Linked DNA regions of Homo sapiens: region 2 is linked to region 1. Evidence: fine-mapped expression QTL. A gene starts in region 1. The other region holds a variant in brackets. All regions are shown on one strand. Distances are from middle to middle.

Region 1 (5,369 bases):
CACGCCTGTAATCCCAGCACTCTGGGAGGCTGAGGCGGGCGGATCACGAGGTCAGGACATCGAGACCATCCTGGCTAACACAGTGAAACCCCGTCTCTACTAAAAATACAAAAAATTAGCTGGGCGTGGTCGTGGGCACCTGCAGTCCCAGCTACTTGGGAGGCTGAGGCAGGAGAATGGCATGAACCTGGGAGGCAGAGTCTGCAGTGAGCGGAGATCGCGCCACTGCACTCCAGGCTGGGCGACAGAGCAAGATTCCATCTCAAAAAAAAAAAAAAAAGACGTACCGACAAACACCACCATTTTGCAACACGAAGATCAACAACAAAAAAGAAGGTCAAACTTGAAGTTCTGTCCTAAAATTACACACATTCTGCCTTTAGAAAACTCAGTGCATGGTCACAGATGAGAAGTGCCTGGCTAACCAGACTTGGGGACTCCTGGTTTGCAGTGAGTGCTGTCAAACTCGCGTTCTAGGCTGGGCTCACAGCAACTCCGACTCCAAGCTGTTTAGGCGCCTCTGTCTCCACTCAAGTCCACAGTCAAGGTCACTACTGTGAAACACTGTCTTGCTTTTAATTTCCAAGCTGCCTTGTTATTTCTTGGGAGTAGGCCAAGCTAACTTTAGGAGGAACTTAGTTTATAGTTTAACTTTGAAACAAAGATGATAACAGCCCTTTCCTGAAGCCAACCTCCTTCTTGCCTGGGGACCAGAATGCTTTTGTAAGACTAACACATGAGCCACAAGATTAGAAATTGTGGTTTGAGTCATGCAGCTAGAGGCCACAAGATTCCAAACCTCCCCAGTTGCTCCTTAGGATAACACCACTATCATCAACTCTAAGATTGGTGCTCAAGATATTTTTCAGGCTCTGCATTCTGATGCACCAGGTGCCACCACCCACACCACTAATCTGGCTCAACCAGTTCTGTGATCCCACCCAGGAACAGAAGACAGCAAGAGAATCAACTTTGACTCTCCATGGTTTCATCTCCAACCCGACCAATAAGCACTGCCCTCTCCCTGGCCCCCTACCTGCCTAATTATCCTTAGATGACCCATCTCAGGATTTTCAGAACCTGGTTTGAGCAATAAAGCTCCAGTGTCCTTTAGCCAGTTTCTGCATGCAGCCAGTTTCTGCATGCAGCCAGTTTCTGCATGCATTAAACTCTCTATTGCAATTCCCCTGTCTTGATAAATTGGCTCTACCTGGGCAGCGAGTAAGGCGAACCTATTGGGCGGCTACGCCTGAGATCTAATGACAGGCTGCACGTGAAGCCCAGACCAGGCACCTGTCTTACACCACAGGGGGATCCAGTCCACAGAACCAGCGTCCTTCCCTCCTGGAACGGACCTTCCCAAAGCCAGAGGGGCTCTAGGCGGCTCAAACAGGGGCTTCCCGGCTACCCTGGTCCCAGGCGGGACCACTCAGGTTCCTTCTCCAAGCCCCCTAGGCTGCAGGGCAGGCTTCCCTAGGGGCAGGCCCAGGCCTATAGCCCGGGACCCGCATCCCGGGCGAGCTGCACCCTCCCGAGACCTTCCCCATCTGTACAATGGGGACAGGACAAGGCCCAGCAGGCAGGCTGGCGGGGGTTCCGGCGACAGAGGGGGACAGCGGGCGAGCACGACAAGAGCACAGGCCCACGTGCGCACCGGCGGGGAGGAAGTAGCCCGGCGCCCCGCCCGCAGCGCGGACCGGAAGTGCTGCCGTAATCTGCGCTGAGAGTCGCGAAAGCGCTGTTCCCCTTAGTGACCGGCGACGCGGGCAAGATGGCGGCGCTGGGGGTGGCGGAGGCCGTGGCGGCCCCACACCCGGCTGAGGGGGCCGAGACGGCTGAGGCGGTGGAGCTGAGCCGCGCCCTGAGCCGCCTGCTGCCGGGGCTGGAGGCCGACAGCAAGCCGGGCCGGCGGCGCGCCTTGGAGGCCCTGCGGCGCGCGCTGGAGGAGCCAGGCCCTGCCGCCGACCCCACCGCTTTCCAGGGCCCCTGGGCGCGCCTACTGCTGCCGCGCTTGCTGCGCTGCCTGAGCGACCCCGCCGAGGGCTGCCGCGCGCTGGCAGTGCACCTGCTGGATCTGGGCCTGCGCCGCGCCGCGCGGCCCCGCGATGCCCTGCCGCGCCTGCTGCCCGCGCTCGCCGCGCGCTTGGCCGGCCCCGTGCCCGCGCGCCGCCCGCCCGAGGCCTGTGAGGAGCTGCGCCTGGCGCTTGTGCAGCTGCTGGGCCTGGCCGTGGACCTGTGCGGCGCCGCGCTCGCGCCCCACCTGGACGACGCTCTGCGCGCGCTGCGCTGCTCCCTGCTCGACCCCTTCGCCGCCGTGCGCCGCGAGAGCTGCAGCTGCGCCGCCGCCCTGGCGCAGGCCACGCCCGGTGAGCACCCCGGGCCCCGCTCCCACACGCCACCCCACACTCTCACCCCCACCTCCACCTCCGCGGCCCCTCTCACAACCCCCGCGGCTCGGCCCCGCCCCCCTCCACGCCCGCACCCCCCAACATCCCGGACCCCCCATGCGCCGCTTCCCCCACCCGCCTGCCCCAAAGCACCCCGCCCGGCCCCCTCCTCCCACCACCACTGCTTCCCCTGCCTCACGTCCCGCCACCAACGCGCCCTTCAGCTGCTCCCTTGTCCTCTACCCCCATGTACCTGTTTCCTGCGCTGCCACGTGCTCCTTGCCCCGTGACCCCTGTTCCTGCTTGGCCCTCACTCACCTCACTCCCCTGTCCCCTTGCTCCCCGCCTCCACCCTCCACGCCCCAAGCCCCGCCCCCCACCTGCCTGCTCCCTGTGCCCCCTCCACCTGCCTATCCTGTGCCATCCTCCTCCTTGCACGCCGCCCTCCCGCGACCCTCACCTCCCACCCTCCTCCCTGCCTGAGCCCCCTCCACCCCACCCGGGCCCACGAGCCAGCGCTTCTGTCCAGATACCTGGAAACCACCGCAGAAATTCCTGTTAGGCGGTTTGGGGTGGGGTGTGCCCTGATAGCTGCCCCCTTTCCTTCCCTCGGGGGCTTGCAGGACTTGCACCTGGTTGAGGGCACGCGCTTTGAGACTCTGCTCTGGTCATTTCACTTTCTGTCCCATTCATCCTACTCCCCTGCCTTTCCGCTCTGGCTTGGACCACTGTCCTAAGTGGAAGGAGGCCGCTTCTCCCCTCCACTTTATAACGTTCCCCATCTTTTTTAGAGCTCTGATCTGATCCGGTCGTTCCCTTTCCTTAGCTGGCCATTCCTGCAGGGTCTTGCCCTTTCCCTCCCCTGGCTGGGATGTGGAATGATAGCAGGCGCCTGCTTCCTGCTGGCGGGAAGGCTTTCCGAAGGAGGGAACACTGATGCTATAAATCCGTGGGCGGTAGGGAGCAGGAAAGCAGTGAGGGATCTGGCCAGCTCAGGCCGTCCCAGTGATGTCCCAGTGATGGTCTGAATGTAGTGGGAAGTGCAGGGGGTGTCAATAGAAGTGATAGACCCGAGTTCAGGTTGTTAAAAGATCACTGCAGCTGCGTGGAGAATAGATTCCAGAAGTAGAGGAAGAGCTGGACTTGGGGAAATGCCGAGATTTCCACGTTGGTTAACTTTGGATTTCACATGGTCCAGAACTCCTGTGGAGCTTGGGGAAGAACCTTGGGCTGGATGGACATGGCCATTGAGAATTCCTGGCATTTAATGTATTTCTTCTTCATCCTCAACCACTTCCCTACCCAGTCTGTACATCAGCCCCACGAGCTCCCTCCCTGGACCGTAGGTTCCACAGGACAGCACTGTGCCCATCTGTGCCCCAGCCCCAAGCGCAGCCTGCTGGGGTATGTGCTCACTGGTTGCTGTGGGGTGAGGGACTGTGCCTCTGCCTGGAGCATCCCCTCATCTCCAGCACCTCTGGCCTTCCTCTCCCCTGGGTGGGGGGCCTCACCTCTGGTCTCGGTCACACTGGGCAACGGCAGAGAGGTTGAGGCGCTCACCCAAAGTCTCACTGGAATAGCCGTTTCCCAGACGGGCCCCAAGTAGTGCAGAGCTGAGGCAAGAGGCGGCCTGGATGCCAGAGACCCTTTGGTTCTGACTTTTTTTTTTTTTTTTTTTGAGACAGGGTTTCACTCTGTCTCCCAGGCTGGAGTGCAGTGGGGCGATCTCAGCTCACTGCAACCTCCGCCTCCTGAGTTCAAGCGATTCTCCTGCCTCAGCCTCCCAAGTAGCTGGGATTACAGGCGCCTGCCACCTCTTGTTCTGACTTTCTGCGGGGACTTTACAAATAGGAAGTGCAGTGGCTTTGCCTGGAGTGGTGCTGGCCCAGCTTCCTGGAGGAGCCTGGGGTCTCGTCTCAGGTGGGGCTGGGAGTGTGGCCTCGCCTCTGTCTTCTGGGCTCGGCTTCTTTCCTCTGGCCAGTGTCCCCGTCAGGCCTCCACCTTGGCTTCAGCAGGTCCAGGCTCTCTGGTCTTCAGCCACAATGGGTTTGCACCCCCAGCCTTTCCCCGCTGGTCCTCCTAAGCCTCTGGGTTGCACAGGTGTCATCAGGGTGGGACGCTTGTCCCTGAGCCTCTTCCTGTGCCGGGCGGTACAGAGCTCTCCTTGGCAGCCTGGATTGTGTACTGTTCATGCAGCAAGGACCTGGCGTAGGAGAGGAAGGGAGGTGAGGAACTCATAGGCAGGCAGCCGTCCTCTGGAAGCCCACAGAGCTGGGCGAGGCGTGTGGGAGCAGCTCTGGTAACTGGGGGCCTCCCTGTCCCTCAGACCACTTCCACATGCAGTCGGAGTCTCTGATCGGGCCCCTGATGCAGACCATCTCCCACCAGCACTGGAAGGTCCGTGTGGCCGCCATTGAAGCCACAGGCGCAGTGATCCATTTTGGCAACGGGAAGTCCGTGGACGACGTGCTTTCCCATTTTGCTCAGCGACTGTTTGATGACGTCCCGCAGGTAACTGGTGTTTCTCCTGGACAGTCTGTTCCTCTCTCCAACACAGGCGGGCTGACGTGCTGTTTTTAACTAACTCACTTGTTCTTTTTTCAGAGTGCTGTATGCACCAAATGTCCTTTCATTATTCCTAGTCACAGGACGTTCCTGTTCACATCTTGGAAAAACTAGAAGAGAGCTGAACTGTTTTAATGTTTGATGTTATGAATTCCAAGGATGTTAGAAAGGATGACTTGTGTAGTTATTGTCTCTTAGGCACAGTGTGCACTTCAGCAGTTGCAGAAGGTTCCTTAGTGCTCCCATCCATCAAGACGCACTTTCCCGAAAAGCCACCATGGTTGGTGGACCTGGACTGGGAGAAGAGTGGAGTCGGGGTTGGTTTGTTGGGGATAATTATGTCGTTGGGCTTTGGAACCCACCAAGAGACGGGCAGGCAGGCAGGCAGGAGTCCTACAGATGGGGCTGAGTGTTGGC
Region 2 (5,369 bases), 110 kb before region 1:
GAGCACTCAGTTCATGCCGCTCTGTGATCTGTTCTTGTTTTGCCTATACATTTATTCCTCTCTTCCCATAGCCCTCTCGGTCTGTGGGCAATTGCTATAAGATACTTGAGGTCTCCCCTCTCGTTTGTATGTTTTCTCTTAAAACATAGAATCTTAAGCTATGTGCATTTAACCAAAAAATGGTATCCTGCTGCAGATTTCATGCTGTTTCTTCTTTTTCTTCAAGGAGTCCACATACTCTAGATCTACCCACGTCACCACATTGCCTGACACGTTGGGGCTGCGGCTTTGAACTGCCGTTTTGTTTGCATTTCCATTTCCCTGATCTCTAAGCTCTGAGCTGCTCTTCAAGGGCTTCTCCTCTGGTTGTGTTTCCTCTTCTGTAAACTTCCTGTTCATATCCTGTGCCCATCTTGATAGAAGGGTTGGTACCTTCTTTCCTGCTGATTTGCAGAAATTCCTTGTGTGTTTTAGATACCGGTTGCTTGTCGGGTTTAGATATTGCAACTATCTTCTTACACGCAGTCACCTGTTAACTTTTTCATGATGTCCTTAATTAGGTAGACATCTTTCATCTGATGTAACCTCTTTTTTGCTTTATGGTTTGTGCTTTGTGGGTTTTGTTTAAGAAAGTGTTTCCCCACAACCAAGTAATGAAATACTCTCCGACATGTCTGCCTGGGCTGCCATCACAGAGCACCACAGACTGGCAGCAAGACCCTGTCTTGAAAAAAGTGAGGTCCTACTGGAGTAGGGTTGGCCCTAACTCAATATGATTGGTGTCCTTATAAAAAGAGGAGACTTGGACACACACAGGGAAAACACAGTGTCCACGCAGAGCGAAGAGTCGGACGAAAGCACAGCAGGGAGGCAACACGGCACCTACAAGCCAAGGAGAGGCCAGGCCAGATCCCCACACACAGCCCTCAGGGGGAACCAGCCCTGCCCACATCTTGAGCTTGGACTTCTGGCCTCCAGAAGCATGAGACGCTTGATCACTGTTGTTAAGGCCAAGTTTGTCCTTCTGTTATGGCAGCCCTAGAAACTAACACAGTGTTTTACGCACAGTTGCTCATTTAATTCTCACAACAACCTTGTGGCATATATGATCATCACTCCCCTTATCCTCACATACAAGTGGGAGCAGGACAGAAGCACAGAGAGGTTAAGGAACCTGCCCAAGGTCACACAGCTAAGGAATGGTGGTGCTGGGATTCAAAACCGGGTGATCTGGCTCCAGAGTCCTTGTCTTAACCACTGCACTAAACTACCTCTTGCATCTATTAAATATGGAGCTCCCATGTGTGCCTGCACCTCCTCTCAGCTCTCGGCCCCACGCCATTGTTCTGCCGTCCCTTCCTGCAGGGCACCTGGCTCCATTTATGATCAAGGCCTCCTGCTGAGCCTCAGCTCTTGGTAGGAGAAGTCCCTCTTCTTTGTGCTTCTGTTTCAAAGATGACTTAGTTATTTGCAAATTTTTATTCTTTCCTTTCCTTTTTCTTTCTGTTGTTTTGTTTTTTGTTTTGTTGTTTGTTTTTTAGAGACAAGGTCTCACTCTGTCACCCAGGCTAGAGTGCAGTGGTGCGATCATAGCTCACTGTAGCCTCGAACTCCTGGGCTCAAGTGATCCTCCTGCCTCAGCCTCCTGAGTAGCTGGGCCTACAGGCACATGCCATCATACCCAGCTACTTTTTTTTTTTTTTTTTTTAGAGATGGGGTTTCTCTGTGTTGCCCAGGCTGGTCTCAAACTCCTGGGCTCAAACAATCCTCCCACCTCAGCCTCCCAAAGTGCTGGGATTACAGGCATAAGCCACCGCACCCAGCTCATTCACATTTCCGAATGTGTTTACTGCCTCACAATATTCCAGCTGCAATTTGAAGTGGAGCTGCTTTGAAGGTAGAGATTAATGTGAGGGAGAAATGACATCATCACGTTGAGTCATTCCACCCAAGAATACAGACCGCCTCTCCCTATTCAGATCGTGTTTTATGTCCTTATAGAGGTTTAAAACTTCCTCCCTAGAGTCTTCTGTAATCTGTTGTCAAGCACATTCCACTTCTCAGTGGCTGTTGCCCTCATGAATGGCATCCTTTCAAATTCTATTCTCCAGTTACTCCTCATCTGTGTCTCTTTTCTCATTCCCTGCACCCACCCAGCCCCTTGGGCTCTTTTTTTTCTCTCTTTCTTTCTGTTGAGACAGATTTAATATCTTCATTGTGATGGGAAGGAATCCGTATTTTTAAATTTTCTTTAAATTGACAAAGAAAAATTGTGTATATTTATTTATGGATTCCTTGGGCTTCTTAATGATGATTTTTGTAAGTTGAGCTTGCACCAACCCTGCTGAACACTCATAAGAATGTAAGAGTTGTTCTGTGTATTCTATGCTGGTTTCCATAGACATGATCAAATTCATCTTCTCTCTACCCTTCCAATTAGGACTCCTCTTATTTTTCTTTCTTTATAGCATTGCCGGGACCTCCCAAGCACAGTTAAACCATGAAAGCCATCAGAGCCTCATTGTGGTCCCTCCCTTAAAGAGCATGTAGCCAAAGATTCTCCATTAGCATGTTTGCTCTGTGTTGGGTATGTATGACCTTTACCAAGTTAAGAAGTGACCCTATTCTTAGTTTGCTAAGAATTTATGCAATAGTTGTTGAGCTTTGTCAAAACCTTTTCCAACACCTATGTGACATGTCACATGCTCTTTCTCTACAATCTACTAATATGGTGATTTACATGGATAGAGTATTCTGAGGTTGAACCATCCTTGAATTCTGGATCATCTCCACCTGATCACAGTACAGTACATACAATGATCTAGCAGCTTCCTCTTGTTTTCTATTTTCTGTAGCAATTTGAGAAGTAAGAATAGACAGTTTGCTGATGTTTGAAAGAACTCAACCAGTGAAACCATCAGAAAGAACCCTTTGGGAGGAAAGGTCTTTGGTTACCATTTCAACTTACTTAATGCTTCTAGATCTCTTCAGGTTTTCTATTTATTCATGTGCCAATGTTGATGGTATTTTCAAAATCATCTCCCAATATTTAAAAATTTACAAAATTCATAAAATCCAAATTGTTGGCTTTCCT[T/C]TGAAAAAAGAAAATAAAAAGAAAAGTCTGACAACACAGGGACCTTGTACTCCCAAAGCAAGAATTCAGCTCACCCCCACTTTGGAAGGAGCATGACCATCTCCAATCTGCCACAATTCCCAAGGACTCCACGTTTTCCACTTAATTCCTGAACCCCCAGGATCCCGAGTTTGCAACCCTTCCCTAAGGGGCTCACTATTGAGCAGTGGTGACAGATGCTTGTGTGGGGTGATGTCACAGCAGGTGGGGTCATCCCCATGACAGATGCTTCCTGGCCATCACCTCATCATGTGTGGTACAAGTCCCAACCTTGCCTGGAGGGACCCAGGGGACTGAGTTTCTGAAGAGTTAAGCCATCTGTAAAATGGGCACAGTAACACTCTCAGCCTCTAAAGCAGCAGGGAGGACTCAGTGATCATGAGGCTTGTGAAGCACTCAGCAGAATAAGGGGCTCCCACGGTCAGCAGCTGCTGCCATAGTGTCTGCTGGTTCCAAACCCCATGCAGCCGCTCCCCCAGTGCTGCTAGAAGGGTCACACATGTCCCAGAATCCCCCAGGAGTGATGCAAATGGAGCGGCCCATGCCCCGATCTCAGCCAGTCTCTTCACCACTCTGGCTTTTTTATTCCTTTTTGTTGGCTTACATTGCTAATATATTGTGGAACTGCAGCCAGAGGTGGCCTGACAGGTAAACACCTCCCCGCCCTCACCCATGCAAAGAAACCTGCTGAAGCAAACAGGTTCAGCCAGTTCTCAGAGCCGAGGCCACCTAAGGGGGACAACAGAAAGGATGGGCACCCACAGCCCCTCAAAGCTGCACCTCAGACCCGAGCACCAGGTGCCTGCCAAGGCTGGGCATGCATTCAGAAGAGCAGCGAGGTGAGGGGTGGCAGCAAGGACCCCCGCGCCACACAGGGCCTCCCGCTCACTCCTCCCGCTCCAACAATCTGCATTTCTGTATGTTAGAAATGTCTGCCTGAGGCTAAAAGAAATAAAGAATTTTTGTGACTTTTAAACAAAAGCATCATGACATTGACCTGGGAGAACATGAATGTGCTAGGATCGTATCCAGTAATAAAGAAGGCAAACTGAGTTATTAGCACTTCCAACATGTCTGATCTTTAGTTTTTTTCAACTCTCTATTTTGAAAATCTTTGAACCTTCCTAGGGATGGAAGGGGGATGTCAGAGTCAGGACACGGGTTGTTATTCCCCCTCCCATGATGTCAAAGAGCAGAACACACAGAGGCACATATGCACCAACAGTAGGTCTGCAGAGAATGTGCATATGTGTATTGACAAGGAGCAGACGGGAATGATGAGTGAAGAAAACAGAACATTTACCAAAAAGGACCCCGCTGAAGGCAGAACACTTGTTCCAGCGCATACTAATATGTTTTTCTGACTTCTTATGTTTTTCAACATGACGCTATCCAGGGGGAAAGAGTGGCCTGCTCAGTCTGTCCTCCTTTAGAAGTGGTTCTGAAAGACCTAGACATGCTGCCCTCGCTGGGGAAGAACCTCTCTCCATTGCGGATTTAAACCTTAGGTCAATGTTATTTAAGGAAAGGAAGTGGCCTAAACCCTTGGGCAGACCCTGGGTGCTGGCATCACGGTCCTATCTCTTCTGTCCCAGCCCAAGACCCAGGGTTCCCATCTGCTGGGATCCCAGCGCCCCAGACACAGCATCCTGGCTTGTGTTTAGCCTCTTCCACTGTTTAGGTGAAGGCTTGTTCCGTGACTCTGTTGACTACAAGTTTCCAAAAAATTCTCTCTAAATAGCAATAACTCAGTCCTGGCATCATGGAAAGCAGAGCTCCTGCTCCCGGCTGGGGTGCCAACAGCACGGTGTTCTCAAATCCCCTGGGACCCTCGGCCACACTCTTGACTGTGGGTCTGGTTCCTAACCACAAACATGTGGTAACAACAATTCTCTCTCTGGCCAAACTTTAGTCAGGTTCCAGAACCTTCTTCTAGGCCCATCTGTACTTCCTTGTAAAATAATCCTGCCAAATCAGTTCAGCCAGAACCGATCACCCACCATAATCAATATGTGATCATCTTTGATATCTGATCATCCTCAGTGTCTGATCAGGCTCCTCACACCCACCACCCCATGGGGGATGTCTGGTCACCCTGGCCTCTCTTCAGCAACAATCCTGTTAGGTCAGTGAAGCCAGAACCCCCCAGCCCCTGGTGTTTCCTCTCGGTCATTTTCCATCCACTGCCACTTAGGTGGAAATTCTCACGTTCTCATCTCATATTCGGAGGCAAGCC

The links. PIP is the estimated chance that this variant, and not a neighbour inherited with it, causes the effect.
Region 2: its variant is fine-mapped to the expression of PRKAR1B in whole blood (TOPMed, PIP above 0.99).

The regions. Positions count from the first base shown.
Region 1 is chr7:724,950-730,318 of GRCh38, forward strand. PRKAR1B (protein kinase cAMP-dependent type I regulatory subunit beta) reads right to left here and starts at 2,332. Exons shown (of 11, transcript NM_001164760.2): 1 at 2,261-2,332. It overlaps DNAAF5 (dynein axonemal assembly factor 5), which reads left to right and starts at 1,750. Exons shown (of 13, transcript NM_017802.4): 1 at 1,750-2,366; 2 at 4,714-4,898. The coding sequence starts at 1,772. RefSeq lists silencers at 1,823-2,022, 2,273-2,322, 2,383-2,492, 2,533-2,612.
Region 2 is chr7:618,329-623,697 of GRCh38, forward strand. All of the region lies in intron 4 of PRKAR1B (protein kinase cAMP-dependent type I regulatory subunit beta), which reads right to left. Among named protein-coding and RNA genes, the nearest start is that of PRKAR1B-AS1, 18 kb to the left of the region's middle. The variant T/C (reference allele first, on the strand shown) is at 3,095.